2 separate regions of the Homo sapiens genome follow, and region 1 is linked to region 2. Evidence: fine-mapped expression QTL. A gene starts in region 2. The other region holds a variant in brackets. All regions are shown on one strand. Distances are from middle to middle. Region 1 holds the start of IFT56 (intraflagellar transport 56). Region 2 holds the start of ZC3HAV1 (zinc finger CCCH-type containing, antiviral 1).

Evidence for each region.
Region 1: its variant is fine-mapped to the expression of ZC3HAV1 in whole blood (GTEx, PIP above 0.99).

What each region holds. Positions count from the first base shown.
Region 1 is chr7:139,121,113-139,135,732 of GRCh38, forward strand. It overlaps IFT56 (intraflagellar transport 56), which reads left to right and starts at 12,666. Exons shown (of 18, transcript NM_024926.4): 1 at 12,666-12,748; 2 at 13,543-13,680. The coding sequence starts at 12,746. RefSeq lists a silencer at 3,911-4,205 and enhancers at 12,491-12,785, 12,503-12,682. The variant T/A (reference allele first, on the strand shown) is at 9,519.
Region 2 is chr7:139,100,644-139,117,767 of GRCh38, forward strand. It overlaps ZC3HAV1 (zinc finger CCCH-type containing, antiviral 1), which reads right to left and starts at 9,077. Exons shown (of 13, transcript NM_020119.4): 1 at 8,381-9,077. The coding sequence starts at 8,688. RefSeq lists enhancers at 1,132-1,703, 7,976-8,105, 8,686-8,785, 8,730-9,233, 9,026-9,185.

The DNA.
Region 1 (14,620 bases), 19 kb after region 2:
TTTTTAGAGAGGGGATCTCACTATGTTGCCCAGACTGGAGTGCAGTCATTGTTCACAGGCATGATTATAGTGTACTATAGCCTCGAACTCCGGGGCTCAAGGGATGCTCCTGCCTCAGCTTCCTGCATAGCTGGGACTACAAGTGCATGCCACCTCACCTGGCTTGAAAAAAATGTATTTCTTTAAGGAGTATATTTTCAAATGCTTGGTCCAGGAGTCATTCTTGTTCTTGCTTGGAACAAGCCATCAGTAATCCTTTCCCCATGATTTCATATAGTTCACTAAGAGGGAGCAAAAAAAAATTTGGGCTTTATTTTTGAGACAGGGGCTTGCTCTGTCATCCAGGCTGGAGTGTAGTGGTGTGATTATAGTTCTCTACTGCCTTGAACAGGGCTCAGGGATTCTCCCACCTCAGCCTCCAGAGTAGCTAGGACTATAGGTGCACACCACCGCACCAAGCTAATTTTTTATTTTTCATAGAGCTGGGGTCTCACTATGTTGCCCAGGCTGGTTCTTGAACTCCTAAGCTCAAGCAATCTTCCCACCTCTGGCCTCTTGAAGTGCTGGGATTATAGGTGTAAGCCACTGTACCCAGCCAAAATATGGTTTTTAAAGCCTTCTCTTTTTTCAGAAGGAACAATCTCTATTAAGAAAAAACAAAACATTCTTTTGTTTTTTTGGCAAGGCAGAATATTTGTAAACCTAGCAAACAAAAAAAGAAAAAACTGATAGCCCTCAAACAGAGCCAATGAATAGATTTACTGTGGCTCTGTAGCAGAGAGTGGAGGATTCTTCTTTTCATGAGATTTTTTTTCCTTAAGGAAAATCAACCCTAGCAGGAAATGCCAAAACTTAGTGCCTTGGCATACCTTCAGCAACTCATGGCCCCGGTCAATGACAGAGACATGATTTCTACAGTGATTTCTAAGGACCTAGGGTCAGCATCACTGTGTATCAAGGCTGAATTGGAGAAACATAGACTCCAGAGCAGCACTCTAAGCTCTGGGCTGGATTATCTTTAAAATAAACAAACAAACAAAACCAGATTTAGCAAGACACAATTTACTTACTGTTAACAAAAAGAGTCAAACTCTGTAAAATAATTGAAGAGATTTATTCTGAGCCATATATGAGTGACCAATGGCCTGTAACACAGCCCTTGGGAGATCCTGAGAACATGAGCCCAAGGTGGTCAGGCTACAGCTTGGTTTTATATATTTTAGGGAGACATAAGGTATCAATCAATACAGGTAAACTATACATCGGTTGGGTCTGGAAAGGCGGGACAATTATAAATAGGGGCTTCCAAGACATAGGCAAATTCAAAGATTTTCTGATTGGCAGCTGGTTCAAAGAGTTATTATCAATAGAAAGGAATGTCTGGTTTACAATAACGGGTTGTAGAGACTGAGGTTTTATCATGCACATGAAACCTCCAGGTAGCAGGCTTCCGAGAGAATAGATAATAAATGTTTCTTATCAGATTTAAAGAGTCTATTCTATCCGTAATTCCAAAAGCAAGGAGGATATAATGAGGAATGTCCAGCTCCCCCGTCCCATCATGGCCTGAACTAGTTTTTCAGATTAACTTTGGAATGCCCTTGGTTGAGAGGAGGCATCCATTCAGATGCTTGTCGGGGTGGGGTGGGGGCTTAGAATTTTATTTTTTGTTTACAGTACTATACAATTCACCTATTCAAAGTGTATAATTCAATGCTTTTTTTTTTTTTTTTTTTGAGACAGAGTCTCACTCTGTTGCCCAGGCTGGAGTGCAGTGGCATGATCTCAGCTCACTGCAACCTCCACCTCCCAGGTTCAAGTGATTTTCCTGCCTCAGCCTCCTGAGTAGCTGGGATTACAGGTGCACACCATCATACCAGGCTAATTTTTGTATTTTTAGTAGAGACGGGGTTTCACTATGTGGGTCAGGCTGGTCTTGAACTCCTGACCTTGTGATCCACCCACCTCGGCCTCCAAAAGTGCTGGGATTACAGGCATGAGCCACTGCGCCTGGCCAATTCAATGCTTTTTAATAAATTTTTATTGTCATACAATCATCAAAACCTGGATTATGTTTTACAGTCCCTCAGAATCCACTGCTCCATTGCAGCTGCAATGAAATTGCAAGTTCCAACTTTGCCTGTTACCTATGCAACCAGGTTTTGTGTGCCTATGTTATATGTTTCATAATACCATTAGAGCCGTAGTTCGGAATAATAACTTCTTCTCAAGTACACTCAGTGTCATATTCTGCCCTTCATAACTACAGCTACAGTTCAAACAGCCTCTACCAGGATTTAGAGATTTAAAGCTATACCTAACTGTTGGAAGTCAGTGGTCATTTCAATTGATTTAGGAAATTCAGCAGGGTTGTTTATAGTATCATCAACCCTTCAGACCCTGGCAAGAGAAGCCCCTGCTCTGGGCTCTGTACTGTGGCCACATCCTAAGCCAGGTATGAAAAGTCCATGGAGTTAAGGGGTCATTGCACCTCTCCTGACCATGCTGTGGTGCCCAGGACTCTGAATCCCCCGCTGATGCAACCCCAAGCCTGTTTCCACACCTGAGCAGGTCTCTTCCTGGGGTCTGTTCTCCCTATAGGTCTATTAGGAAATGACAGATCACAGATGAGTTGGGTGACTACAGCTTGAATTTGTGGGCTGGGTGTCCACACACATGCACAAAGCCCTACATAGTGTGGGTAGAGAGAACCTGGAGTGAGAAGAGATGGGTTGTGGGCTGAGGGTTGTGGCTGGATCTCTTTGCATTGCCACATCCACAACAGAATTTTGAGAAGTCCGAGAATTCTAAATTGGAGCCTGACCTTCTTCATAATAGTATATTTGTCAAGGTAGGAGGATAAAACATTTTATTGAACAGTTTGCTAAGCTGATTTAAAATTTTCCAGCATTTAGCTATATGGTATATGGACCTCCACATGTATGATTTCATTTATATTAAATGTCCAGAATAGACAAATCTATAATGACAATAAAGAGATTAGTAGTTGCCAGAGGCTGGGAGGAGGGGAGAAACAATGAGTGATTGCGGACGGGTGTGGGGTTTCTTTCTGGGGCGATAACAGTGTCCTGGAATTCAATAGTGATAATGGATGCACACTGTGAATATACTAAAAGCCACTCACACTTTAAAAGTGTGGGTTTTATGGTAATTTGAATGATATATCAAGCTATCACCAAAAATACACAATGGGAGTTCAGAAATGCCACCCCAAACTATGATGATTTGACATGCTCATTACTTTGAACTGATGTCACTTGGGGAAAAACAGATGCAGGCAGAGACTTTCTCTGAGATCTGCTTATCTGCCTAAGACAGATCAAGGGATCCTCCAAAAGGAACTCAATTGTCATGAATCCCCTCCCCTGGAACCTTATCAACCAGGGACAATGAACTTAGATCAGAGAGGGGGAGACTGGAGGTTGACATCATGCCTAGACAGCCACCTCTTCTTCTGAGGGCTGCTCCAAGAGAACCTTTATTACTTGAGAGGCTTCTCATTTGCATAACAAGAAACCTTTGTTCACCATACACTTCCTCCCCTCATATTCTCATAACTGGTGTCACCACCACCCACGCAGAAGTCCAAAGCCTCTATTCCCTTCTGTACCTCAGGGTGCTATATAAGCTTCAATCATCTGACCCTTCTTTGAATCTCATATTTTGTGGGCTTGCATGGGTATGTACATAATTAAAAATGGATTTCCTCTTGTTAATCTGTCTTATGTCAGTTTAATTCATAGCCCAGCCAAGGAACTTAGAAGAGTAGAGGGAAGTCATTTTTCACTCCCCTACAAGAACATTCTGCTGTAAAGAGGAGCTAGAAATAATTTTTGTTTTAAATTCAACCAAACATAGGGATAATTCTGAAATTTGGAACCAAAAGAATTATAAGTACACTACTGGTGAATTTGTGCTTATCTGAAATCTACACATGTAGCTGTCTTTATGTATCTCTGTATATCGATGTTTTTCTATATATATAATCAGTGAAGTAAGATATCTAGTCATTCATTTACTCACCAAGTGATTGCAGTGGGGTGACAGGGACAGTGGGGGGTGTGGTGGCGGGTTGCCAGAGCATGAGGAGTATGCAATAGAATCTAAGAAATCATACCTACCTGGCCAGGCACAGTTGCTCATGCCTGTAATCCCAGCACTTTGGGAGGCAGAGGCAGGCGGATCACTTGAGGTCAGGAGTTCCAGACCAGCCTGGCCAACATGGTGAAATCCCATCTCTACTAAAAATACAAAAAATACAAAAAATTAGCTGGGTGTGGTGGCACATGCCTGTAATCCTGGCTACTCTGGAGGCTGAGGCAGGAGAATGGCTTGAACCTGGGAGGCAGAGGCTGCAGTGAGCTGAAATTGTACTACTGCACTCCAGCCTGGGTGACAGAGTGAGACTCCATCTCAAAAAAAAAAAAAAAAAAAAAAAATCAGACCTGCCTTCCATGAGCTCATGGTATACTTGAATCTCCATAGGCTAGTTATTCAGGAGGGTATGTAATGTAACTCAACAATGCACAATTACTTAAATTCGCTCAGGAGAATTACCTCATTTTGCCCAACTTGTTACTGTGAAAAAAAAAAAAGAAAGAAAATTTCAGGACCTTCCAAATTTATTATGCCAAAGGGAAAAGTCAAGCCCTGGAAACCAAGTCATGTAACACGGCTGTTTTTCTTCTCTGGTGCATGACTGTTGCTTCCTGATCTTTTTGTTGATGTTATACATTAACCAGCCTCTCTATTCTTTATTCAAACCTAGACTAAATGACGTTGGAGACGGAGACTCTTGTGATTGTTACCTCTTTACAACAAAATGTTAAACAACCCCCTTAGAGTGTAAACAACAGTAGTGAATTAAATCTTCTGTGTATATTAGCCTTATATAGAAAATGCTGGCCGGGCGCGGTGGCTCACGCCTGTAATCCCAGCACTTTAGGAGGCCGAGGCAGGTGCATCACGAGGTCAGGAGATCGAGACCATCCTGGCTAACACAGTGAAACCCCGTCTCTACTAAACACACACACACACACACACACACACACACACACACACACACACACACACAAATTAGCCAGGCAGGCACCTGTAGTCCCAGCTACTTGGGAAGCTGAGGCAGGAGAATGGCGTGAAACCCGGAGGTGGAGCTTGCAGTGAGCCGAGATGGTGCCACTGCACTCCAGCCTGGGCGACAGAGCCAGACTCCGTCTCAAAAAAAAAAAAAAGAAAGAAAGAAAAGAAAAGAAAATGCTGTAATATGCTGTAATTCTGTGCAACACACTTGTGGTTGCCTACATATACCACCTTCACCTTTCCCTACATCGCGGAGCACTGATCACCATTCTTTCTTTGGTGTCTGTGTTTACCTGATGGCCACTCTCACACTTTGCACTTGAATAAACTCTTTTAACTGGATCCTGAGCTGTTTGATTATATTAGATTGACATTTTGATGATCCAGAGACTCTAAGCGGGCCTCCTGAGATCTGTGCCTCTTTGCTGACATTCGGAGCTTTGGTGTCTACAGGAGCGGCTTTTGCTCATCCCACCTCATTGGAACTGGCAGGGGGCTCTGGCAAGGCTTCCTCTCAGGTTTTGAATCTCCCTGGCTTTGACTGAGATTCACACTTTACACAAGCGATCCAGTTCTATGCTCCACAGAGCTGGAATTGAAGCTGTACTTTAAGATAGAAGTTTTGTTTGCTTATTTTGTCTTTCACAGATTTATGACATTCACTTTTCTTTGAGGTTAAGGTTTGTTTGTTGAACTACTTGCTACACTTTGTATGGCCCTTTCGGTCATTCGAATTTGGTCAGAGGACAAAATAGGTTCTCTCTCTGAAAAGAGAAAGTGAATGTATGTGGCTTTAGGTAAATTTGTGGTTTTAGGCCAGGCCCAGTGGCTCACACCTGTAATCCCAGCACTTGAGAGGCTGAGGCAAGTGGATCACTTGAAGCCAGGAGTTTGAAACCAGCCTGGCCAACATGGCAAAACCCCATCTCTACTAAAAACACAAAAATTAGCCAGGCATGGTGGCATGTGCCTGTAATCTTAGATACTTGGGAGGCTGAGGCAGGAGAATTGCTTAAGCCCAGGAGATGGAGGTTGCAGTGGGCCCAGATCATGCCACTGCGCTCCAGCCTGGGTAACTGAGTGAGACTATGACTCAAAAAAAAAAAAAAATTGATTGGACCCAGGTTGGTGACCCAGGTTTTGGAGCTCAGTAAAAATTGACATTTAAGTTTAATTCTTGAGTGACCAAAAATTTATAAACAGGGTTCATATGAGGACATAAGTCCCAAATACAAAAGACCTTGTTCCTCCCAGAAGAAAAGCACCTTAGGTGATTGAGGTCATGTAAGAATGTCAGAGTCCATAGCTTGGGATGTGTAACTATGCTCTAGGGAAATCTCAAAGAAGAATATGCAGGGAAATCTGCTTAACTCGGTGGGCACACATAAGGGGTTGGGCTCCCAGTACCTAAAACCCCCAGAAATTTCTGGGTTTCATTGGGACACATAAGAGGGGAGAGGTGACTCATGGGTGAAACCTTGAGGAGTAAAAACTATTAAGCAGCACACTAGACCCAAAACGTCTTTCCCTTTCAATCTTTGGTCAATTTAAAAGAGGATACAAATTATGGACAACTGTTCATCTAAAACAAAGTCCTCTTTAAGGGAGGACCCACTTTTAGAAACTCCAGCTAAATTTATGTACAAGACTTACAGTGCCACCTCCTGTATATATATACACACAACCTAACAACCTACATACATAAATATGTGTGTATGTGTGTCTGTATGTTTTATGAGGCAGGGTCTCACTCTGTCATCCAGGATGGAGTGCAGTAGTACGATCTCGGCTTACTGCAACCTCCACCTCCGGGGCTCAAACAATCCTCCCACCTCAGCCTCCCGAGTAGCTGGCACCACAGGCACACCCCCATGCTGGGCTAATTTTTTCAGTTTTTATAGAGACAGTCTCACTACATCATCCAGGCTCATCTCAAACTCCTGAGCTCAAGTGATCCTCCTGCTTCAACCTGCCAAAGTGCTGAGATTACAGGTGTGAGCCATCGCACCTGCTACCTCCTGTCAGTATTGGGAAAAATGGTCTTACTTGACCCAAGAAGACCCTGAATTACAGTGGCCAAAGTAGGGTACTTGTGAAATGCCTAAGTTAGTTTGCTCACATGCACAATTAGAAAAAGCCAGCTCCAGAATTAAACAATATAATTTGGAGAGTTATTTCCAATGCTACCCAGAAGCATGCAAAAGAGGCTGTGACAGAGTTCTTTTCCTATAGAAAGAGAATGAAAAGCCTCTAAAACTTTTATTCAGAAAAGCTGCTGAAACTGCTGCTTCTCCTCCTTCTGCTCCCCCTTCTCTCTATCCCTCCTTATCACAACTACCTTGCCCAGACTGACCTTCTCTTCCCTCTCCTCCCCTTCCACCTGCTCCCACATTTTTGGCTTCATTTAATGAACATCCAGCATCTGGTAGAGGGAAACCTGCTTTAGTTTATCAACCATGGTCTAAGGTAGAACTTAAAGGCATAGTTAAATAATTCCCCGACCTTAACCAGGATCCTATTTGTTTTGCTAGGGAATTTGAATTAAATATCTGAGCTTATGGCCCTGGTTATTCTGATTTATATCAACTAACTCACATGTGACTATCAGAAAGTAAAGCTAAAGATTAGACAGACACAAATTGTCCCTGTTTGCAGATGACATGATTGTATATTTAGAAAACCCCATCATCTCAACCCAAAATCTCCTTAAGCTGATAAGCAACTTCAGAAAAGTCTCAGGACACAAAATCAATGTGCAAAAATCACAAGCATTCTTATACACCAATAGCAGACAGAGAGCCAAATCATGAGTGAACTCCCATTCACAATTGCTTCAAAGAGAATTAAATACCTAGGAATCCAACTTATAATGGATGCGAAGGACCTCTTCAAGGAGAACTACAAACCACTGCTCAACGAAATAAAAGAGGACACAAACAAATGGAAGAACATTCCATGCTCATGGACAGGAAGAATCAATATCGTGAAAATGGCCATACTGCCCAAGGTAATTTATAGATTCAATGCCATTCCCATCAAGCTACCAATGACTTTCTTCACAGAATTGGAAAAAACTATTTTAAAGTTCATATGGAACCAAAAAAGGGCCCGCATTGCCAAGACAATCCTAAGCCAAAAGAACAAAGCTGGAGGCATCATGCTACCTGACTTCAAACTATACCACAAGGCTACAGTAACCAAAACAGGATGGTACTGGTACCAAAACGGAGATATAGACCAATGGAACAGAACAGAGCCCTCAGAAATAATACCACACATCTACAACCATCTGATCTTTGACAAACCTGACAAAAACAAGAAATGGGGAAAGGATTCCCTATTTAATGAATGGTGCTGGGAAAACTGGCTAGCCATATGTAGAAAGCTGAAACTGGATCCCTTCCTTACACCTTATACAAAAATTAATTCAAAATGGATTAAAGACTTAAATGTTAGACCTAAAACCATAAAAACCCTAGAAGAAAACCTAGGCAATACCATTCAGGACACAGGCATGGGCAAGGACTTCATGTCTAAAACACCAAAAGCAATGGCAACAAAAGCCAAAATTGACAAATGGGATCTAATTAAACTAAAGAGCTTCTACACAGCAAAAGAAACTACCATCAGAGTGAACAGGCAACCTATAGAATGGGAGAAAATTTTTGCAATCTACTCATCTGACAAAGGGCTAATATCCAGAATCTACAAAGAACTCAAACAAATTTACAAGAAAAAAACAAACAACCCCATCAAAAAGTGGGCGAACGATATGAACAGACACTTCTCAAAAGAAGACATTTATGCAGCCAACACACACATGAAAAAAATGCTCATCATCACTGGCCATCAGAGAAATGCAAATCAAAACCACAATGAGATACCATCTCACACCAGTTAGAATGGCAATCATTAAAAAGTCAGGAAACAACAGGTGCTGGAGAGGATGTGGAGAAATAGGAACACTTTTACACTGTTGGTGGGACTGTAAACTAGTTCAACCATTGTGGAAGACAGTGTGACGATTCCTCAAGGATCTAGAACTAGAAATACCATTTGACCCAGCCATCTCATTACTGGGTATGTACCCAAAGGATTATAAATCATGCTACTATAAAGACACATGCACACGTATGTTTATTGTGGCACTATTCACAATAGCAAAGACTTGGAACCAACCCAAATGTCCATCAATGATAGACTGGTTTAAGAAAATGTGGCACATATATACCATGGAATACAATGCAGCCATAAAAAAGGATGAGTTCATGTCCTTTGTAGGGACATGGATGAATCTGGAAACCAGCATTATCAGCAAACTATCGCAAGGACAAAAAACCAAACACTGCATGTTCTCACTCATAGGTGGGAACTGAACACTATGACACAGTGAGAACGCTATGACACAATGAGAACAC[T/A]TGGACACAGGAAGGGGAACATCACACACTGGGGCCTGTCATGGGGTGGGGGGAGGGGGGAGGGATAGCATTAGGAGATATACCTAATGTAAATGATGAGTTAATGGGTGCAGCACACCAACATGGCGCATGTATATATATGTAACAAACCTGCACGTTGTGCACATGTACCCTAGAACTTAAAGTATAAAGAAAAAAAAAAAGATTAGACAGACAAGGCCCATTATAGAAATCTCTTAGAAGACTTTCATAAATGCTCAGGACTGTAGGCAGACACACAAAACTGCAAAGGCATTGCTTCAAGCCACTCCTCACTGTTTCTAAGAGTAGTTGACTGTAGTAAAATACAACAAGGTCAACAAAATCCAGATGAGTCAGTAATATCATATTTTGAGAGGTGTGAGTAAACTTAAACAATATTCGGGTTTATCTGAAGAAAGCTAAGCTAATAATCAAAATGATATTCTTCTCAACTCCAGTTTTATAAATAGGTTAGATGAAGAATTAGCACTAATAATGAAAAGACAAAACCCTCGCTGGGCCACTTCTCAAAATCATAATTTGGTCAGTCTTGCTGCCCAGTTGTCTCATAACTGAAGACAAATCTGAGAAGGAGGCCAAACAAAAGAGCAAGGCTAATAAAATTATGATTTTACAGTCGAAACAAATGTCCACACAATTTGGACCTTCAAGATATCCTTATAAATCCGCAAATAGACTTAACCATACACTTTCAATTAATGCAAAAAGCCTGATCACATTAAAACGAACTGCCAAAAACTAAAAAGGAAAGAACAACAGGTGGAGTCAGATAATAAAGAATGGGGGTGCTCCATGGAACTTAAAGGGGCCTTTCCTTTTCTCCTTACACTCTGAGAGAAAAGAAATTGTTTAAAACTCCCCTTACTGTTTTCATCCCTCATTCTGTGGAAGCATTGCTAAACTTGAACCACACTCAACGTTATTCAATGAGTAGACTAACTTCATAGAAAGTTTCACTTCTTTTAGCTTCTCATGTCACCATCTCTAGATGTAACAAGCTAAATATTGCAACTCTTCTTCCTTCACTTTCAGATGAAACACCACACAATTGCATAACTCTAACTGATAAACTTGTTTTCTCCTAGGACTGATCTGCAAGAGACTTTTCTTACTTAGGCTAATGTTGTTTGGTTTACAGACGCATGTTATTTAAAGGATGAATCTGGAACTTACTGTAAAGGTTTACGCAATAGTGTCTTTAACAGAAGAAATAGAAAGTGCTTACCTTCCAGAAGCCACTTAGATTCACTTCTGTCTTTGTACCACAACTGTGTATTGAAGATGTCATTTGCCATGTACAGGCCCTAACCAATTACACACAAAAGGCCCTAAATAACAGCCACATGAATGTCTCATTATTAAATAATGAAGTTACTGTCATGAGAAGACTGTATTACAAAACTGTATGGTCTTAGACATACTCACTGCAGCCCAAGGAGGAATCTGTGCTATGACAGAAACTGAATGCTGTGTTTATATCCCAGATGAATCAAATAACGTCACCAAATTAATAACTGATTTGAAAAACTCTAATAATTAACCTTTCGGATCCAAAACCCTCTCTAAGCTACTGGTTAAGTAATTGATTTGGATCTTGGGGAACTTGGTGGCAAAAGCTGTTATGTATTTTAGGAATTATCATAGTTTGTGTTTTGTCTTGCCTTTGTCTGCAGAGCTGTTATGGTATTTATCTGCAATTGGGTCAACACACAGCTGAGAAAATGTGTAGAACAAAGACTACTCAGAGAATTGTTTGATTGAAGAGGCAGCCGTGTAGCCTGAATCAGGTTCCAGAACTACTTTCTCTTGTTGCTTTATAATTCGGACTTGGTCCTTTCCAATTTCCCCTCCTCCCTGGGATGTGACTGCCAGGAAGGGGCCTTCCTAGTGACATGAGGTTTGATCAAATACACGGCCTGAGAATATAATTCTTCTATAATGCTTTCTCTGAAAGCTTTTGAAGAAAAGGGGAAAATGTGAAAAGAAAATTTCAGCACTTTCCAAACGTACTATGCCAAGGGGAAAAGTTAAGCCCTGTAAACTAAATCACAGAACATGGCTGTTTTTCTTCTCTGGTGCATGACTGTTGCTTCCTGATCTTTGTGTTGATGTTATATATTAACCAGATTTTTTATTCTTTATTCAGACTAAATGACGTTGGAGATAGAGACCCTTGTGATTGTTACCTCTTTACAATAGAATATTAAACAACCCCCTTACAGTGTAATCAATAGTAGTGAATTGAATCTTCTGTGTACGTTAGCCTCATCTAGAAAATGCTGTAATTACGTACAGCACTCCTGTTTTTGGTGATATAAATGACCCTCACCTTTCCCTGCATCAGGGAGCACTGATCACCATTCTTTGCTGTCAGTGGTTCCCGGGATAGCCGCCCTCACACTTTGCACTTGAATAAACTCTTTCAACTGGATCCCTGAGCTTTTTGGTTATTTTAGGCTGACATTAGTTAACTAACAAGATGTTAGTTCTTCAGTCTGTTAATTCTGAGGGGTTGACCAGAGGTCCTGTAAGGTCCCTTCCAACTCTAACATTCCACGATTTCGTGAATTTAAAGACTGTGGTTGCCCCTGTATTAACTGGGTTCAGGAGTAAGATAGATAAATTAAGTCATCCAATCGACAAATATTTATTACAGTTCTCTATTGTGTGTAGGTGTATCTGTGGAAATAGGAAACTGTATTTTGGTGCACTCCTGCTTCCAAATCACAGAACTACAACTCCTTCAGCAGAAATTTTCTAAGCTTCCCGCACCAGCCAGAGACCAAGATTCTGCGGTGCACATAGTCAAGGGTTGCTATGGAGTCCAACACGGCCCCAAACAGAAGTGGTCCCTGAAAATTTCTTTCCCAGAAAACTTGCATTTGAAAAACAATGCCATTCCAATTCGCCTTTTCCTAAAGTAAACTCATAAATAGAGACAACCAAACTTTCGCTCTCAGCCCAGAGAACGACGCTCTCCTCCCAAGAGGAACCTCGGCTCTTCCGCGGCAGAAGCTGCACGGAACCAAGAAGCCGCGGGCGCTGGTTCTCCAACGAGCTTTTCTCCCGTTCGTACCAGCGTCCAGGCGGGGTTACCGTGGAGACAGAACGTGCTGTGTGGATGCGGCGAAACGCTGAGGCGCGGCCTTCGCTGTGTGGTGGGGACTCACAAGACCGACGTCAAGATGGTTAGTGGCTCTGAATAGTAAGGGAGTACTTTGAGTAGGTCCTGAGGCTGGCGATTAGAGGTTCCCAGCACACTTCTGTGTGAAGTCTAGGTGTGTCCGCAGAGAGTAATCCCCAGCTCTCCCTGTGTTCCCACGGGGGACAGGGATGCAACTGTAAATACCTCGGTGCTTTCTTCCCTCCTGCTTTTCCGTTTACTCACATTTAAACCACTCGTGGGATGGGAAGCAGAGGAAGGGAAAGCTGAGATGACAGAAGCAATGCGAAAGCATCTCTAGCCAGAGAAGATAAAAGTTGGGAGTAGCTGTTTGGTCCTTCCTAAGTATTGGCTGATGGCTCTTCTAGTAGAATACCTGTTACAAAACGAGTTTGAATAGGCTTCCCTGGGGTTCGTTGTTAAGGATTTGACTTATAATTTTTTTTTTTTTTTTGAGATGGAGGCTCGCTTTGTCGCCCAGGTTGGAGTGCAGTGGCGCGATCTTGGCTCACTGCAACCTCTGCCTCTAGGTTCAAGCGTTTCTTCTGCCTCAGCCTCCCGAGTAGCTGGGACTACAGGCGCATGCCACCACGCCCGGCTAATTTTTGTATTTTTAGTAGAGATGCGGTGTCACCATATTGACCAGGCTGGTCTCCAACTCCTGACCTCGTGATCCGCCGCCTTCGCCTCTCAAAGTGCTGGGATTACAGGCATGAGCCACTGTGCCCGGCCTTGACTTATAAATTACAGAGCTGTCACTCTCAGTTTAAATCTGATAATCAGAATTGGACCATACAGCTGTCTTTGTTTCTTTTACAGATGCTTTCAAGGGCCAAACCTGCTGTAGGCAGAGGCGTACAGCACACTGACAAAAGAAAGAAGAAAGGTAGGAAGATTCCAAAACTAGAGGAGCTACTTTCAAAAAGAGATTTCACTGGAGCTATTACCCTGTTGGAGGTAATGCCCAAAGAACGTTGCTTCTTAGTGTATGAATACCAGACTGTAGATGAATGCTTGGGTGAATGCTGTTTGCTATGCTCTTGAAATAGGTGGGTGCATTCTGGGGCTTCCTGTACAAATCCCCTGTAAATCTAGTCAGGCACAGATTCCAGATTCCAAGTTAGCTATAAACCTGATAAAAAACGAACTAAAAAACTAAACTTGGCCGGGCGCGGTGGCTCATGCCTGTAATTCCAGCACTTCGGGAGGCCGAGACGGGCAGATCACAAGGTCAAGAGATCGAGACCATCCTGGCCAACATGGTGAAACCCCGTCTCTATTGAAAATACAAAAATTAGCTGGGCATGGTGGCACGTGTCTGTAGTCCCAGCTACTCGGGAGGCTGAGGCTGGAGAATCGCTTGAACCCGGGAGGCGGAGGTTGCAGTGAGCCAAGATCATGCCACTGCACTCCAGCCTGGCTACAAGGCGAGACTCCGTCTCAAAAAAAAAAAAAAAAAAAAACAAAACAAAACTTATTTCTTGAGGGCCACTTTTGAGTATGTCTAGTTCACCAACAGTGATTACAATCTAAAAATATGAAGGGACCTTTTATACAATGTCATTTCACACATTGCTTATCCCAACCCTTGACCAATGTATGATTTTTTCCTATTATGTGTTCTAAAATTTTGATCAAACTTAAATAATTCTAACATGCTTACGGTTGAAAATATAGCCCCAGAAAATATTTCAAATCTCCATGGCAGTAGTTCTCACCTTTTAATATACATTGGAATTACCTAGGGTACTTAATAAGATATCGATTCCTGGGCTCCTGCTGTAAGTCTGCAGAGGTGCTCAGGAATCTGCATTTTAAGGTGAGTAGTCTAAGTGCTTCTGATGGAGATGGTCCCAGGAGACTGTGCTTTAAAAAACTGCTTTGTGGGAAACACATG
Region 2 (17,124 bases):
CTATGTGAGGCAAGGGAAGGCTCTTATTCTTCTGGTGGGAGTATAACTTGGCAAACACACTTCGGAAAACAATTTGGCATTATCACATAAAACTTTAAGAATCAAAATTCCACTCTCCCTCTCTTTCCACGGTCTCCCTCTCCCTCTCTTTCCACGGTCTCCCTCTCCCTCTCTTTCCACGGTCTCCCTCTCCCTCTCTTTCCACGGTCTCCCTCTCCCTCTCTTTCCACCGTCTCCCTCTGATGCGGAGCCGAGGCTGGACTGTACTGCTGCCATCTCGGCTCACTGCAACCTCCCTGCCTGATTCTCCTGCCTCAGCCTGCCGAGTGCCTGCGATTGCAGGCGCGTGCCGCCACGCCTGACTGGTTTTCGTATTTTTTTGGTGGAGACGGGGTTTCGCTGTGTTGGCCGGGCTGGTCTCCAGCTCCTAACCGCGAGTGATCCGCCAGCCTCGGCCTCCCGAGGTGCCGGGATGGCAGACGGGGTCTTGCTCACTCAGTGCTCAATCTTGCCCAGGCTGGAGTGCAGTGGTGTGATCTCGGCTAGCTACAACCTCCACCTCCCAGCCGCCTGCCTTGGCCTCCCAAAGTGCCGAGATCGCAGCCTCTGCCCTGCCGCCACCCCGTCTGGGAAGTGAGGAGCGTCTCTGCCTGGCCGCCCATCGTCTGGGATGTGAGCAGCCCCTCTGCTCGGCTGCCCAGTCTGGGAAGTGAGGAGCGCCTCTTCCCGGCCGCCATCCCGTCTAGGAAGTGAGGAGCGTCTCTGCCAGGCCGCCCATCGTCTGAGATGCGGGGAGCGCCTCTGCCCTGCCGCCCCGTCTGGGATGTGAGGAGCGCCTCAGCCCGGCCACCACCCCGTCTGGGAGGTGTACCCAACAGCTCATTGAGAACGGGCCATGATGACGATGGCGGTTTTGTGGAATAGAAAAGGGGGAAAGGTGGGGAAATGATAGAGAAATCGGATTGTTACTGTGTCTGTGTAGAAAGTAGACATGGGAGACTTCATTTTGTTCTGTACTAAGAAAAATTCTTCTGCCTTGGGATGCTGTTGATCTATGACCTTACCCCCAACCCTGTGCTCTCTGAAACATGTGCTGTGTCCACTCAGGGTTAAATGGATTAAGGGCGGTGCAAGATGTGCTTTGTTAAACAGATGCTTGAAGGCAGCAGACTCGTTAAGAGTCATCACCACTCCCTAATCTCAAGTACCCAGGGACACAAACACTGCGGAAGGCCGCAGGGTCCTCTGCCTAGGAAAACCAGAGACATTTGTTCACTTGTTTATCTGCTGACCTTCCCTCCACTATTGTCCTATGACCCTGCTAAATCCCCCTCTGTGAGAAACACCCAAGAATGATCAATAAAAAAAAAAAAAAATCAAAATTCCACTACTAGATCTCTAGGGAAACTCATGTACATGTACACAAAGAAGCATATACCAAAATGTTCAAAGCATAATGGTTTAATAGCAAATACTTAAAACAATATCAATTTTACTTTGTTTTTTCAGAGGCAGGGTCTCATTCTATTGCCCAGGCTGGAGGGCAGTGGCGCAACTGCACCTGACCGCAGCCTTGTCCTCCCAGGCTCAAGTGATCCTCCCGCCTCAGCCTCCTGAGTAACTGGGACCACAGGTGTGTGCCACTGTGTCCAACTAATTTTATTTTTTAATGTTTTTGTAGGAGCTATGTTGCCCGGGCTGGTCTCGAACCCCTGACTTCAAGAGATTCTCCCACCTCGGCCTCTTGAAGTACTGGGATTACAGATATTAGCTACTGAGGCCAGTCTCAATTTTAATAATAAGAAGATCAATATATAAATTGTGTACATTCATGCAAAAGAAAACAATGAAGACATTTCAGGGAATCAGAGTAGACCTTCTCTAAAATTGGTGGGGCCCAGAGCAAGGTTATAAATGGAGGCTTGGATACAAATGTCTAAATATTTAACAGTAATAAATCATGCTGAGCTGGGCTTAGTGGCTCATGCCTGTAATCCCAGCAGTTTGGGAGGCTGAGGCAAGAGGAATGCTTGAGCCCAGGCACTCGAGACCAGCCTGGGCAAAATAGTGAGACACTGTCTCTATACACACACACACACACACACACACACACACACACACACACACAAATTAGCCAGGTATGGTGGCACTAGCCTGGTCCCAGCTACTGGGAGGCTGACATGGGAGGATCGTTTGAATCCAGGAGGTGGAGGCTGCAGTGAGCCATATTTGCACCACCACACTCCAGAGTGGTGACAGAACAAGATCCTGTCTCAAAAAAAAAAAAAGTATATATATATGTATATGTATATGTATATGTATATGTATATGTGTGTGTGTGTTTATATATGATATATATAAAATAAAAACTTTAATACAAAAACTTTAAAATTTGTTGTAAAAAAATTTTTTTGGAGACAGAGCCACACTCTGTTGCCCAGGCTGGTGTGCACTGGCATGAACATAGCTCACTGTAACCTCAAAATTCCTGGGATCAAACAATCCTTCTGCCTCAGCCTCCAGCACTGCTAGGACTATGGGCATGCACCACCACGCCCAGCTAATATTTTTTATATAATTATTTTTATTTTTTATTTATTTTACTTGTTTTTTATTTTTTTATTTTTTTATTTTTTTTTTATTTTTTGATGGGGTCTCACTATGTTGTCCAGGCTAGTCTTGAACTCCTGTCCTCAATCCTCTCATCTTGGCCTCCCAAAGCACTGGGAGTACACCCATGAGCCACTGCACCCAGCCCAGGAAAAAAATTTTTTTTGAATTCAAATAATGACTATTTCAAAGCCTTCCGACTGGCATAAGCCAAAAAAGTCTGATAACACCAAGCATTAATTGGCCAGAAAATGAGGAAACTGGGACACTCAGACATATAAGTATAAATTGGCACAGCCACCTTTATACTAATTCGTCAGAATCTGGAAAAGTTGAAGCTATGTAACAATTCAAACCAACAATTCCACTTCCTAATGATCTACCCTGGAAAAGCTCTAACCATGAGCACCAGGAAACACTTGCACGTAAATTCTTGGCAGCACGATTTGGTATAACAAAAACCTGGAAATATACTATATATCCATTACTGGGGGGAATAGGTAACTGAACTGTGGTATAAATCCTATGATGAAATACTTTTCAACTGTTAAAATGAATAAACTAGGTCCTTGTGTAGCAATATGAATAGATCTCCAAAACACAGCATTGAATAAAAATTCTAAAACACATAAAATACTACATTTTGTATATGGATGCAAACATATACAAGAGGAAATTATAAAATCATGGAAGGACAAGATACACACCAAAATCATGATTGAAGCTGCTTCTTAGGAAAGGGAAATGAGACTGGGGATGAGAAAAAAATAACCTTAGGTCTGTTATGATTGTTTAGTATATTTTAAAAGAGGAGCAAAACTGAAAAATGTGAACACTTATTTATCCCAGGAGGTGAGTTATAACTTTTATGGGTTCAGAATAAATATTCTCTGATGCTTGCGTTTTTCAGTATTCTATTCAACTTGCGAAACAGTCAACTAGTCCTCTTCCCATCTACCCACCCCCACCCAAAATGTGAATTAACCGAAAAGGAAAGACATACAAACAGGAAAGAACCCAGAGGAAACACCCACATCGGCAAAAACCGCAAAGCAAGGTAAAGACCCTTAGGCAGCCTGCTTGAAACAGTTAACAGAAATCATGCAGGCAAAATAAATTTTTGAATTAATAACTTCATATAGTTACTGGACAATGTAAGTAGCTAGTTAAGAAGTCAAGGCCGGGCGCGGTGGCTCACGCCTGTAATCCCAGCACTTTGGGAGGCTGAGGTGGGCGGATTGCCTGAGCTCAGGAGTTGGAGACCAGACTGGGCAACATAGTGAAATCCCGTCTCTACTAAAATACAAAAATGAAAAAAAATTAGCCAGGCGTGGTGGCAGGCGCCTGTAGTCCCAGCTACGCGGGAGGCTGAGGCAGGAGAATCGCTTGAACCGGGGAGGCGGAGGTTGCAGCGAGCTGAGATCACGCCACTGCACTCCAGCCTGGCAACAGAGCGAGACTCTGTCACAAAAAAAAAAAAAAAAAAAAAAAAAGTCAAACAAGGCCGGGAGCGGTGGCTCATGCCTGTAATCCTGCACTTTGGGAGGCTGGGAAGATTGCTTAAGCCTAGGAGTTTGAGAGCAGCCCAGGCAAAATGGCAAAATCCCATCTCTACTAAAAAATACAAAAATTAGCTGGGTGTGGTGGCACATGCTTGTAATCCCAGCTACTCGGGAGGCTGAGGCAGGACAATCGCTTGAACCGGGGAGGCGGAGGTTGCAGCGAGCTGAGATCACGCCACTGCACTCCAGCCTGGGTGACAGAGTGAGACTCTGTCTCAAAAAAAAAAAAAAAAAAAAAGAAAAGAAAAGTTAGCCGGACATGGTGGCGCCCACCTGTAGTCCCAGCTACTCAGGAGGCTGAGGGAGGAGGATCATCTGAGCCTAGGAATTCGAAGTGGCAGTGAGCTATGACCGTGCCACTGCACTTCAGTCTGGGTGACAAAGCAAGATCTCATTTCTAAAGAAAAAAAAAAGGAAGTCATGCAGATCTAGGTTCAAATACCAATCCTGCCAGCTTCTAGTTATGTTACTTTCAGTAGATTTCTGAAAGGCTCCATGCCCGAGTTTCCTACAATAAGGATGGGACTTAAAATACTACCTTAGGAGCTATCCTAAAGACTAACCTGGATATCATCTCCAAAGTGCTTATCATAGTGGTTGGCACATAGTTATTTGTTCGATAAATAGTGATTATTTTTGCATCAGAAGTGGGATTAGAACTCCATGTGTGGGCATATATTTCAGCAAAGCAAATAGAAATATCCAAACCGATTCACCAAAACAATTATCCAACATTGAAGCAAGCCCTGTTGTCAACTAAAATGTATCACTAAAAACATTGCAAAAGAAAAGACAGGAACTACAGAATAGACAGGATAAATCCTATCTATAAATAATAGTACCACAGACAAAATTTTATACACCCAGCACAATGCAAATCGTCCCCCTGTAAACAGAGACCAGTTTAGTGAACTGAATAGTAATGTCAAGATGGGTATCAATTAGTTAACAGACCCCATTAACTGGTAATCTACAAAGAAAGTTCTTAAACTCACAAGTGGCAAGTTTTGGAAGACAAGGTTTTATTACTCGCTAAGAGGAGAATATTTTTAAAACATAAGTAGGGAGGAAAAAAACATGTTTTCTAGGACCCGAGGACAAAAAAAAAATTCTCCCAGAGGTCCTTATTACAACACTTTATACATTAATAGATTAAAAGTTTGTAATTCCCAAATTCAAAAGTGATATAAAATGAAATTAAAAATATGGCTCTGCCAATAAATGTTAGGAAATAAGATTTTATCACTCTACTAAAAAAAATAAACTTTATTGACTTCTCTGGAGGGTCCATCCAAATTTAGATAGACCAAATAATCCCTATATTATATATATTCTTATAAAAGTGGAGGTTAACAACCCAATTAACGAGTTTAAAACAGTTTTGCTGTTTCAAACCAGGGAAAAATATACCATAATAAACTTCATAAAACTAAAATTTCTAAGCATATTGCCTACAACAAATTGAAACAAAGTATTTAAATGTTAGATATGTAACATATGAAAACAATTATAGGCCAGGTGAGGCAGTGGCTCAGGCCTGTAATCCCAGCACTTTGGGAGGCCTAGGCCGGCAGATCGCTTGAGCTCAGGAGTTCGAGACCGGCCTGGCCAACATCGCGAAACCCCATCTCTACTAAAAATACAAAAAATTAGCCAAGCATGGTGGCACACACCTATAATCCCAGCTACTTGGGAGTCTGAGGCAGTAGAATTGCTTGAACCTGGGAGGCAGAGTTTGCAGTGAGCTGAGATCGGGTCACTGCACTCCAGCCTTGGGTGACCCTATCTCAAAAAATTTTAAAAAAATCTTTTTTTAAAAGGATTATGTCTATGTATCCTTTTCCCTGAAAATAAAAGTTGGATTTATAAGACAATCAGGGAAATTTGAATACCAACTGGACAATAGATGATATTAAAATTGTAATTTTTTTTACAAAAATGTGATCATTGTACTGTATTATGTTAATAAAACATAGTTCTTATGTTTTAGAGATACTAAAGTACTTAGTAATCAAATGGTTGCTGAGATTTGCTTTAAAATAACACATTGGAGTTGGGGACACATGGGGAATAGGGAGAATAAATGAAACAAAACTGGCCATATTTTCAAAACTGTTGAAATGATGGGTACAAGGGGCTTCATCATTTTTTTCTCTCTACTTTTGAGTATGTTGAAAATATCCATAGTAAGAAATAAAAAAATAAAAAGCATATGTATTTCATACTAAAAATCAACACTAGTTGGTGAAGAATTTGTCATAATAGAAAAGATAAGAACAGAAAAAACATAACAAAGCCTTCCAACCATGTTATTTGGTGTAGTGCTAGAACATGCTAGAATGTTCCTTCCTTTTCTATCCTCCACCCTCTGCTCTCTTCTCCTTCTCAGAGATTTCTTCAGTGACCAGCAATGACTTAGATGATTTCCTCGATACCCATAACTCCCAGCAACTCAGAAACAACCTTCAAATTGTTGCCCCACAACATATTAAAGAAAATTTTAAATAAAGGAACACATTCAAGCACTTTTTAAAAACGTTAGAGTGAGCTGAAAGGGTTTTTGCTCTAAAGAAATTTTTAAAAAAATACATTGCGTCCTCTACCTCATCCATCTAAAACACTTACCTTTGTGTGTTTTATTACACGTATATTGGGGGTGAGTGACTGGAGTTTTTGTTAGGTGCGTGATCAAAAGTTTGCCGACTGGTCGGACTTGGTGGCTTATGCCTGTAATCCCAGCACTTTGGGAGGCTGAGACAAGTGGATCACCTGAGGTCAGGAGTTCGAGACCAGCCTGGCCAACATGGTGAAACCCTGTCTCTACTAAAAATACAAAAATTGGCCGGGTGCGATGGTGCATGCCTGTAATCCCAGCTACTCGGGAGGCTGAGGCAGGAGAATCGCTTGAACCTGGGAGGTGGAGGTTGCAGTGAACCGAGGTGGAGCCACTGCACTCCAGCCTAAAAAGTTTGCTGACAACCATTTTAAACCCTGGGACACAAGTCAAAGTGTTTAAGAATGGGCCAAGTGTAAAAAGTACTGTATCGAGAAAAGTAATTGAGCAGAGCACATAGTGACAGAAAGGGTGGGAGGAAAGACTGGCCATTCATTAATTCAACAAGGCGTTCATTCAGTTCATTCAGAAATTAGATGGGAAGGCAGAATCCGCCAAGAAGGGAAAGAGACTTCACAAAAAGGACTTGGTGATGACAGATTGTGAGGAGGATTAAAACCCTGCCTGGGGGAAAAGATGAGTTTGACTCCATGGACAGGACACACGCGGGAGAGGAAGGGCTTGGGATCAAGGGAAAGGCCTGGGCAGCGAATGTGGACCTGGAAGCCATCTTTTTAGATGTGCAGCTGTCCTCGAGGGAGCAAGCTCTCTTAGGGAGAAACTGGGAAGAAAATCACTCAAGAGTCTTAACCCAAACCTTGCAGCGCATCTGCATTTAGACGAAAAAAAAAAAAGGCAAACGGAAACAACAGAAGCAGTGGCCCGAGACGTGAGCCACACTGCTTCAAAGGGATTTAAGAGAGTTGTCCCAAGGCAGGCGGTCAACTGCGCGCGCCACCGTAGAGAGACCACCCGGAGGGAAGGCCCGCGGCTGCTACAACTTCAGGAACCTGGAAAAGGGCCACCCCTGCTACGCGCCAGGCATCAGAAAAGCGGTGATGAGGGGCATGGGGGTGACCGGGAAGGGAGGGACAAGCAGAGAGACCTGCGGCTCGCTCCGGCGGAGACGGACCGGGGGCCCAGGGCGGCTGGGTTACTGGCTCCGCCACGTCTAGGGAAGGAGGTAGTAGGGAGGGAAAGACTCAAGATACCAAAGACGGGAGGCTCTTTCCTTCCTTCCCAAACCTGCCTACCGCTTCTCTAGGCCCTGGCTGGCTCCAGAGCACTTTATTCTTCTGATTCGTGCGGGCGGGCGGGGAAAGGGGTGGAGGTTGAGCCTGGTCTCCTCCAGGCACTAGCATTTTAGCCATTCTCGAGAAAATGTCTGGAGGTGCCGGAAGGAAGGGAACTGCAAAGGTAGAAGCGCGGGCCCTGCAGAGGCTCCCAGAGGGGAGCAGAGAAGGGAGTGGCTGGAGGCGGAGGCTGTCAGGTGCGGGGTCCCGGCGAAGCCGTGCCCCTCCCAGAACATTGCCCGCCTGGACAGTCCACCCCGACCACGGCTGCGGACAGCGCCCCTCCCTCCGGGTGCACTCACCGCTCGGACTGCGAATAGTTGCACCGGCCCAGCAAGTTGAGTTTGCAGAGATGCAGGTTATCGCAGGGTCTCTGGCAGTACTTGCGACGGCAGACCCGGGCTCGAGTGGTGGCCACCACCGATCGGGTGATCCCGGCCTCGCCGCCGGTCTCCAACACCACAAAGCGGTCGGGCCCGGCCACCTGCAGCACCTCACAGAGCTGCGGCTCAGACAGCGCGATCTCCTGGAGCAGCGCGTCCAGGGCCATGCGGCCCCCGTGGGCGCACAGGATTTTGGTGATGAAGCAGCACACCTCCGGGTCCGCCATGGCGCGCTGGCTGTGCTGGCTCTGCCGCGGCGCGGGACTCGGTTCCGCGGAAATCGGAAATCGAAACTTACAAGTGTCCAGGGGCGGGCGCGGGCGGTGCTACTGCTGGGCGCGCCCGGAGTCAGCGAGGGCGCGCTCTCCGTCGCCGTTAGCCCAGCCCAGCGATCCACTCTCGGCTCTCAGGTCAAGAGGCTAGATCTCACCGACCGGGTCCTAGTGGCAGGTTTACAGCCGGCCGCAAGGGCAACTGGGTGGAAAGAAAGAGAACGCGCGGGCAAATCTGCTGGTGACCGCCTGGGGTGGCCCCCTCTCGGTTCTAGGCTCGGCGAGGGTGAGGTTCTCCAGCCGGGCTCCGCGAGCCTTCTTTAGAAAGAAGAGAAACTAAAAGCGATCTTGGGGCTCTGGCCGGTGTTTTATAAGCCAGCCGACTGAGGCGTGTGACGCAAGTCCTGAGAGCCCTGTTGAGGAGTGCGCACCCCACCCATTCCCGGAAAGAGCAGACCCTAGCGAGCGCTTCCTGCGAGCCGTGCGCTCTGCCTCTGTTGGTAGTGAATCTTCCCAGCAACTCCACATGGTAGATATTATTATCCTCACCCTGAACTTGAGGAAGTAACTTGCACGAACACGCACTGGCATCAAGCGGAGCCCAGATGCCACCGAGTTTCCCCAAATCGCGTCCCCAGGCCCCAGATCGTGGTACCCCAGGCCCCGATGTGCAAGTTTCTCCTCCACCACCGTGCCCTCTTAAAGAACAACGATTGCCACTCTCCCTCGTTTCTGCCTTCTCACGAACTTTTGGACAAACCACTTCTTGACATGGTCTTGCTTACCTAGAATCGCTAACTCGGTGCCCTGAACCACTGCTTGTACCTCAATCACGGTGGACATGCTAAGACATATCCCAAGATTTCAGATCGGTTCCTCCCCGTAGAGATTGGGACAAGAACTTTTCCACCGTGGGGACGTACTTTGACCCCCAGAGTTGACATAAAGATTGTTTTTAAGTGAAAACATTGAGCTACAGAAGATGTAGAAAGAAATCTTAATGAAACTTCCCTTATCTGACTAAAGCAAAACCTCCCGAAAACATGGTGCCATTAAAAGCCTCTCGGAGTATTCAGCTGCCAGGAAGACAGACTGTCCCATTACCATTAGCACCAAAAAACCCAATGGGCTGGGTGCTGTGGCTCAGCCCGTAATCCCAGCGCTTTAGGAAGCCGAGGCAGTGGGAGGATTGCTTGAACCCAGGAGTTCAAGACTAGCCTGGGCAACATAGTGAGCTCTCTTCAATAATAATAATAATAATAATAATAATAATAATAATAATAATAATAAAAACAACCCGGGCATGGTGGTGTGCAGCCGCAGTCCCAGCTACTCGGGAGCCTGAGGTGGGAGGATTGCTTGAGCACGGGAGGAGGCTGCAACGAGCCGGGATTGTGCCACTGCACTCCAGCCTGGGGGATAGCGCTGAGACTTTGTCTCAAAAACACAAAACAACCCAATCAAAACTTCCAAACTCTCCTACTGAAGCCCTAAAACTTTCCTTTTTGTTAAGTTGAGGTATATAAACCTTTACTTTTGAGTTTTCTGTTACTGGAAGCTCCTGCATGCATGTGTAAATAAACTTTGTCTTTTCTCCTATTTATCTGTCTAGTGCCAGTTAATTTTTAGGCCCCCAAAGACAGGACACAAGTTGAAGAGAAAAAAGGTTTTTTTTTCCAACATCTTCAAATAAAATAGATGGGTCATTTGATCAGATAAGAAATACATCTTTTTAAAAAATAATAGATTCTGGTTGCTAACTTAGAAATTCTTCAAAATGATTAATGAGAATTCTCCTCAGTTTTGTCATTCATGGTATATAAACCCTCTTTCAGGAATAGAGTACTTTGTTATGAAAACCAGCCAAACATGGGGGCCACATAGGATCATCTTAGGATGTCTAAGAGGGACATCTTGTTCCCTCTAGTTGCTGCTTCTATAGTTGTCTTTTAATCCACTTGGCCTTATTTGTGGTCTGACAGGTTCCCAGGGACCTTTTATTATCAAATCAACTAAGTTCTAGATGTTTATTGACTATCTTCTATGTGGTATTTACATTAGTTAGTAATGTAAGGACATGCAGAAGTTTAAAAAACAGTCCCTGCACTCAAGGAGCATGTATGCGAAGACATGAAAAAATGCATGGAAATATAAGCAAATTCATGGGTAAATGCCACAATGGGAATATAGAAGATGAGAGACTGAAGAGTCTAGTTTGGCTACAGTGGTTGGGAGTACAGACATAGAATCTCCTCCAATTTGAAGCCATGAAAAATGATTTAAGGGCCAGGTGCAGTGGCTTGTGCCTGTAATCCCAACACTTTGGGAGGCCAAGGCGGGAGGATCATGACCATCCTGGGCAACATACTGTGAGATCCACCTGGGCAACATAGCGAGACCTCATCTCCACTAAAAATAAAAATTAGCCAGACATAGTGGTATGTGCCTGTAGTCCCAACTACTTGGGAGGCTGCGGCGGGAGGATTTCTTGAGCCCGGGAGTTCAAGGTTGCAGTGAGCTACAATTGTGCCACTGCACTCCAGCAAAGGCAACAGAGGAAGATCCTTTTGGAAAGGGAAGAGAGGGAAAGGGAAAGGGAAACGGAAATGGAAAGTGACAGAGAAAGGGAAAGGGAAAGTGAAAATGAAAGAGAAAGGGAAATGGAAAGGGAAAGGGAGGGAAAGGAAAGAAAGGAAGGGAAAGGAAAGGAAGAGAAAGGAAAGGAAGGAAGGGAAAGGAAAGAAGGGAAAGGAAAGGGGAAAAGGAAGGAAAAGGAAAAAAAGGAAGGAAAAGGAAAAGGGGAAAAAAGAAGGGAAAGTGAAAGGAAAAAAGAAAGGGAAAGTGAAAGAGAAAGGTGATTTAAGGAGTTCTGGGAAGGGAAAAGGAGACATTTTGAAAAATTTTGAAATATGTGCCATCAGAGATTGGGTTCTCCAGGAAGGAGATCCTGACATGGAGTTAAGAGTGCAGAACTTTCTCTGCACTTTTTCTGGGGCATAATGCCAGAAAAAGTCAAAGGAAAAAGCATGATTGATCCATGGGGCCTATCAGACTTTTGTGCGGACCTAACAAAGTCTCTGCCAGCCCAATGAGGAGCTCTGGAGTAGGAGTCCAGCTTTGGACAGAAAAGGCTAGGCCCTTGTACTGCCTTGCTCAGTCACCGGTGGGGGCCACCAGAGAAGTGGATGACTTCAGCTCGAATGCTGGGGCAGATCTTGAAAGAGCTAAAGCTGGAGGATATTGGCTAAACATGCTCCTCAAAGCTGGGCTGCAAGCTTGACCTGAGTGCCACCCTGTGTCAGCTGTAGTCCACCCTTTGTACTACATGGCTTTCTTTATCCATTTGTATTTAGGGAACAGGCTTTTCAGGGTCACTCTTCCTACAAGGAAGCTTACCAGAGAGAAATTAGTGGAATGAACTATAGTCCTTGTCACTGCAGTTGGTCTCAAGGCCACAGCTGGTGGTCTGGTCCTCATCATATCCCTCTACCACTATCCATTCCAATCCCTCTCACCCTTGGCCACCACCTCAGCTGCTCTCAGTAGCTTAATCTGGTCGGGTGCCCTATTTGAAAGTGGTCTGAGCACATCTCAGTCCCAGCTGGGCAAAGGATTACCAAGAGACACCAAAATAGGTCACCAGAATTCCATACATATTCCACCTGCCCACATTGTGTAACAACAGCCACACCTCCTGCTGACCAGCAACAGTTACCTCGAATAAGATGGCCATTCCCTTTCTTACTTGCTAGTCTCTGACCATTAGGAGGCCAAAGTACCTGGTGACAGCCATCACAGTAGTCCAGTGGGATCTCTGTGGTATCTCCAGGCAAGAGTGTGCCCCTTTGGGGAACCAAGACCTATAACTCTGCAGAGCCCAGCATTGCTGGGAGAGGAAATTGCAGGGGGTCATTGGAATTATACTAAGTAGGGCCACTCAGGCTTACCCATTCTTTCCAGACTCATGTATGGACACAGTACCATACTAACTTGACCGATTCAAGGCATATACCACGATGTTCTGGAGTCTGTGTCATCATTGTAGGGTATCAGCTCCATTCTGGTGCTTGACTCCATCTTTAACTAGCCATTCCAATACTTCATCCTATAGCTACTGGGTGGTGAAGTGTATGATAGGACCATGGATAGTACCATGTTCATGGGTTCATTCCCTCCACTTTCTGTGCCATGAAAAGATTCACCTGATAAGATGCTATGTTAAGTGTGATTCCATGTCTGTGGATCGGGCAATCTTTAAGTCTCCAGAAAGTGGTGCTACTGGCCGGGCACGGTGGTTCAAGCCTGTAATCTCATCACTTTGGGAGGCTGAGGCAGGGGGATCACTTGAGGTCAGGAGTTCCAGACCAGCCTGACCATCATGGTGAAACCCTGTGTCTACTAATAATACAAAATTAGCCGGGTGTGGTAGCACACGCCTGTAATCCCAGCTATTTGGGAGGCTGAGGCAGGATAATCGCTTGAACCCAGAAGGCAGAGGTTGCAGTGAGCTGAGATCGCACTATTGCACTCCAGCCTGGGCAACAAGAGTGAAATTCCATCTAAAAAAAAAAAAAAAGAGTGCTACTACTGAGGCTCTGCAGGGAGGAAGGGCAACCCCAAATCCAGAATAACTGCCTCTTCTTGTGAGAACCACCGATGGTTCTGCCAGGACAAAAGGGGCCCGATGCAGTCTACTGGTCCCCAAGTAGTCTATTGGTCTCCTTAAGGAATAGAGCTTAGCATTGGTCTTTATGGCTGGCAGATCAGACACTCAGAGGTGGCAGTAGCTGTGTTTATTTTGGCAAATGATAATCTATGCTGTTAGGTTCTTGCATCGCTTCCATCTCCTGGCCACCATGGCCTCTTTGAGCAGCAGTGGGGGAGGGGGCCTGTCACTAAGCCTGGCCAACATTAACTGGCCAAGTTATTTTGTGTAGTTGGCACATCTTTTGTGGGTCTTAATGTGATATGAACTGCCCACTTCCATACATCTATTCATATGCTTCCTTTTACTTTTAGGCTCCCAAACTCCCAGCCAGGCCACCATCACTGCCCATGAGACCATGTATGTTCTAACCCTAGGCCATACTCCTTCCATACGAAGTGATGACTAGGTACACTCTCAAAGCTCCTCCCGCTGGGGAGATTTTCCCTTACCACTGTTTTTCAAGGACTTCCCTGAGTGAGACTGTAATATAGCTGCCATGCATTTTCAGCTTGTACCCACATATTAAGCTAGCCCATCCTTAACGCAAACTTGGTCTTTTTCCCTCCTCCTTTAGCTGGTTATATGGGACCCCCTCACATGACCACAGGTGAGGCTGGGGGAGGGGTGCTGGTGCAACCGTAGTGAATGACATGGAAATCTGGGCTAATTGCTCATGCAGCTTGAGTGTGCGTGTGCCCTCTGGTCCCACTTGTGTTCAGTCCCAGATGTACCAGTTTTATCCTATGATGGCTTTGATACTGACCCGCCCTGACCTTATCACTTGGTGTGTCTAACAGGACGTAGCTGATGGCAGCCAGTTTTGAATCCATGATCACTTGGTGTCTCCACCAGGGCCCAGTAGAAAGTAGGAGCTGTTTTCTGAAAGGAGTGTAATCCTTCACTGCAGTTGGCATGACCTTGTTACACTATCCAAGGAGTCTGCATTGTGATTCCTCTATTGGGACTCACCATAAATGCCATACTACATCTTTTTCCATCACTGACATCTCCAACATGAGAAGCTGTGCCAGATTTTACAGTCCACTCAAAAGGGCTGCTTGTGTCACAGCCTGGAGAGCTCTTTCCTGTTCTGAGCCTCACTCAAAGCTGGCAATCTCTGTGTAACCCAGTATATGCGCAGCAGCAGTATTCTTAGGTGTGAAATGTGTTTTGTCAAGAACCCAAAGATTCCTAACAGACTTTGTGCTTCCTTCTTTCCAATAAATATAAATGATGCAACAATTTTTCTTTTGCCTTGGAAGGAATGTCCCAGCACACTGGTGACCATTGGACCTTTCAAATCGTTAGTGAAGTGGCAGGTCACCGTATCTTTGTAGGATTTATTTCCCACTCTCAGGAGCACATGTGTCATACCAAGGCCTCTACCATGCTCTTCACCTCTTTCTCATCCTGCTAGAGCAGCATGACATCCTCGATGTGATGGATCAATGTGATGTTACGTGAGATGTCCAAATGCTCCAGTTCTCTTTGGACTAGATTACGGCAGAGGACTGAAAAGGAACATAGCCCTGTGGCAAAACTGTAAAGGCTTGTTGCTATGCATTCCATATGAATATGAACTCTTTCTGATCCTCTTTCTTGATTGCAATAGAAAAGAATGCATTCACCAGATCAATGGCCTCAAACCACTTCAAACTGCATAAATCTGCTCTGGCAAAGATGCTATATCCAGTACAGAGCTACTACTTCCTTGCGGTAGTCTGAAGTCATTCTCTAGGAACCATCCCATTGCTGCAGGGTCCACACTGGCAAATTAAACAGAAACATGACAGGGACCATGCTTCTTCATCCTTTAGATATTTAAGAGTGGCACTAATATCTGCCATCCTCCTCACCCTAGACTGCAATGCTATTTTGTAGTTACCACATTGGCTGGGGTGGGGGACAGTTTCAGATACTTCCACTTAGCCTTCCCTACTGTGATAGCTCCCACTCTACAAAACCAGGATGAATGTGAGAGTTAGCCCAATTCCCAAGTGTGGCAATCCTAACCATATATTTGGGGATTAGGAGAAGGACGATTGGTGGGTTCATGGACCCAGAGAACCCACTGTAAGCTGGAACTCAGTCAGGACTCCATTTGCTCCCACTCTAACATGGAAGCGATGAGAATGCTTCAGTTCTCTGGGCATCAGTTGACCTCTGACCTTGTACCCAACAGTCACCAAAATGTCTGCATATTCCCCCATCCCGTGTTCCATCACTGGAATAAATATTGTAGATCTCTTTAGGGGAAGAATCAGAGGAACTGTGACAATACTTTCTTGCCACAGTGTTACAGGTCCTTCATCTTGGTGACTTGGCCACCACTTCACTCAGTGGGTTCTGAGTCTGAACATTGGTTCAGGAATGGAAACCAGGCAAGGAAATGTTTTCCTCATTGTCCTGCTTATTAATTCTTTTATTTTAGATTATACATGTGAAGCACGACAGATGCTCCTTGACTTCCAATGGGGTTATGTCCCAACAAATCCATCATACATTGAATATACTGTAAGTAAACAATGTATTTAGGCCAGGCACGGTGGCTCATGCCTGTAATCCCAGCACTTTGGGAGGCTGAGGCAGGCAGATCACTTGAGGTAAGGAATTTAAGACCAGCCTGGCCAACATGATGAAACCCCACCTCTACTAAAAAAAAATACAAAAATTAGCCAGGCATGGTGGCTCACACCTGTAATCCCAGGTATTTGGGAGGCTGAGGCAGGAGAATTGCTTGAACCCAGGAGGCAGAGGTTGCAGTGAGCCTAGATCACCCCACTGCCCTCCAGCCTGGGAGCAAGACTCTGTCTCAAAAAAAAAAAAAAAAAAAAAAAAAAACACCAAAAATGTATTTAATACACCTAACCTACCAAATATCATAGCTTAGCCTAAGCTACATTAAATGTGCTCAGAACACTTACATTAGCCTACAATTGAGCAAAATCATCAAACACAAAGCCTAGTGCATAACAAAGTGCTGAATATCTCATCATGTAATTTTTGAATTCACTACACTGTATAGTATCCGTTGTTTACTCTTGTCATTAGGTAGCTGACTGGGAGCTGTGGCTTGCTGCCACTGCCCAGCATCAGAAGAGGGTATCATATGGCATATCCCTAGCCTGGGAAGAGATCAAAGTTCAAAATTCAAAGTGCAGTTTCTACTGAATGCACACCATGGTGAGGCAGAAAAATCATATGTTGAGGGCCATTTGGACTTTTTGACTACCCACGCGTCTATGTTCTTCCTAGAGAAACTGTGTGCTATTTACAATCCCTACAACTCCCTAAAAGTCAGGTCCTGTTAGCTGCCACTCTGATTTTGTCATTCCGCCCTTAAGTGCCATCATTCTGGTGTCCAGTGCATCAGGAGCCCATCATCTTCATTGCTATCAGTGAGCCAAGTTCCAGGACAGCCCCTCCTTCCATCAACTATGTTCTACTGGGGAAAGCACCACTGAACTTATTAGCGACGTTGCTGTCCCTCTCACCAATGCGTTCCCTATGGCCTTGATGAATATGGCTCCTTGAGCGATCCTATGGGACATAATCCCCGGGTGGCTGTTCTGGCCTAACCTTACATCTATTTCAGCATGTCCCCTTTTCTGAGTCTTTTAATCCTTTCCTCTACTGCCTGACATAGCAATTTAGGCACTTCAGACTCACTCTTCATGAATCAG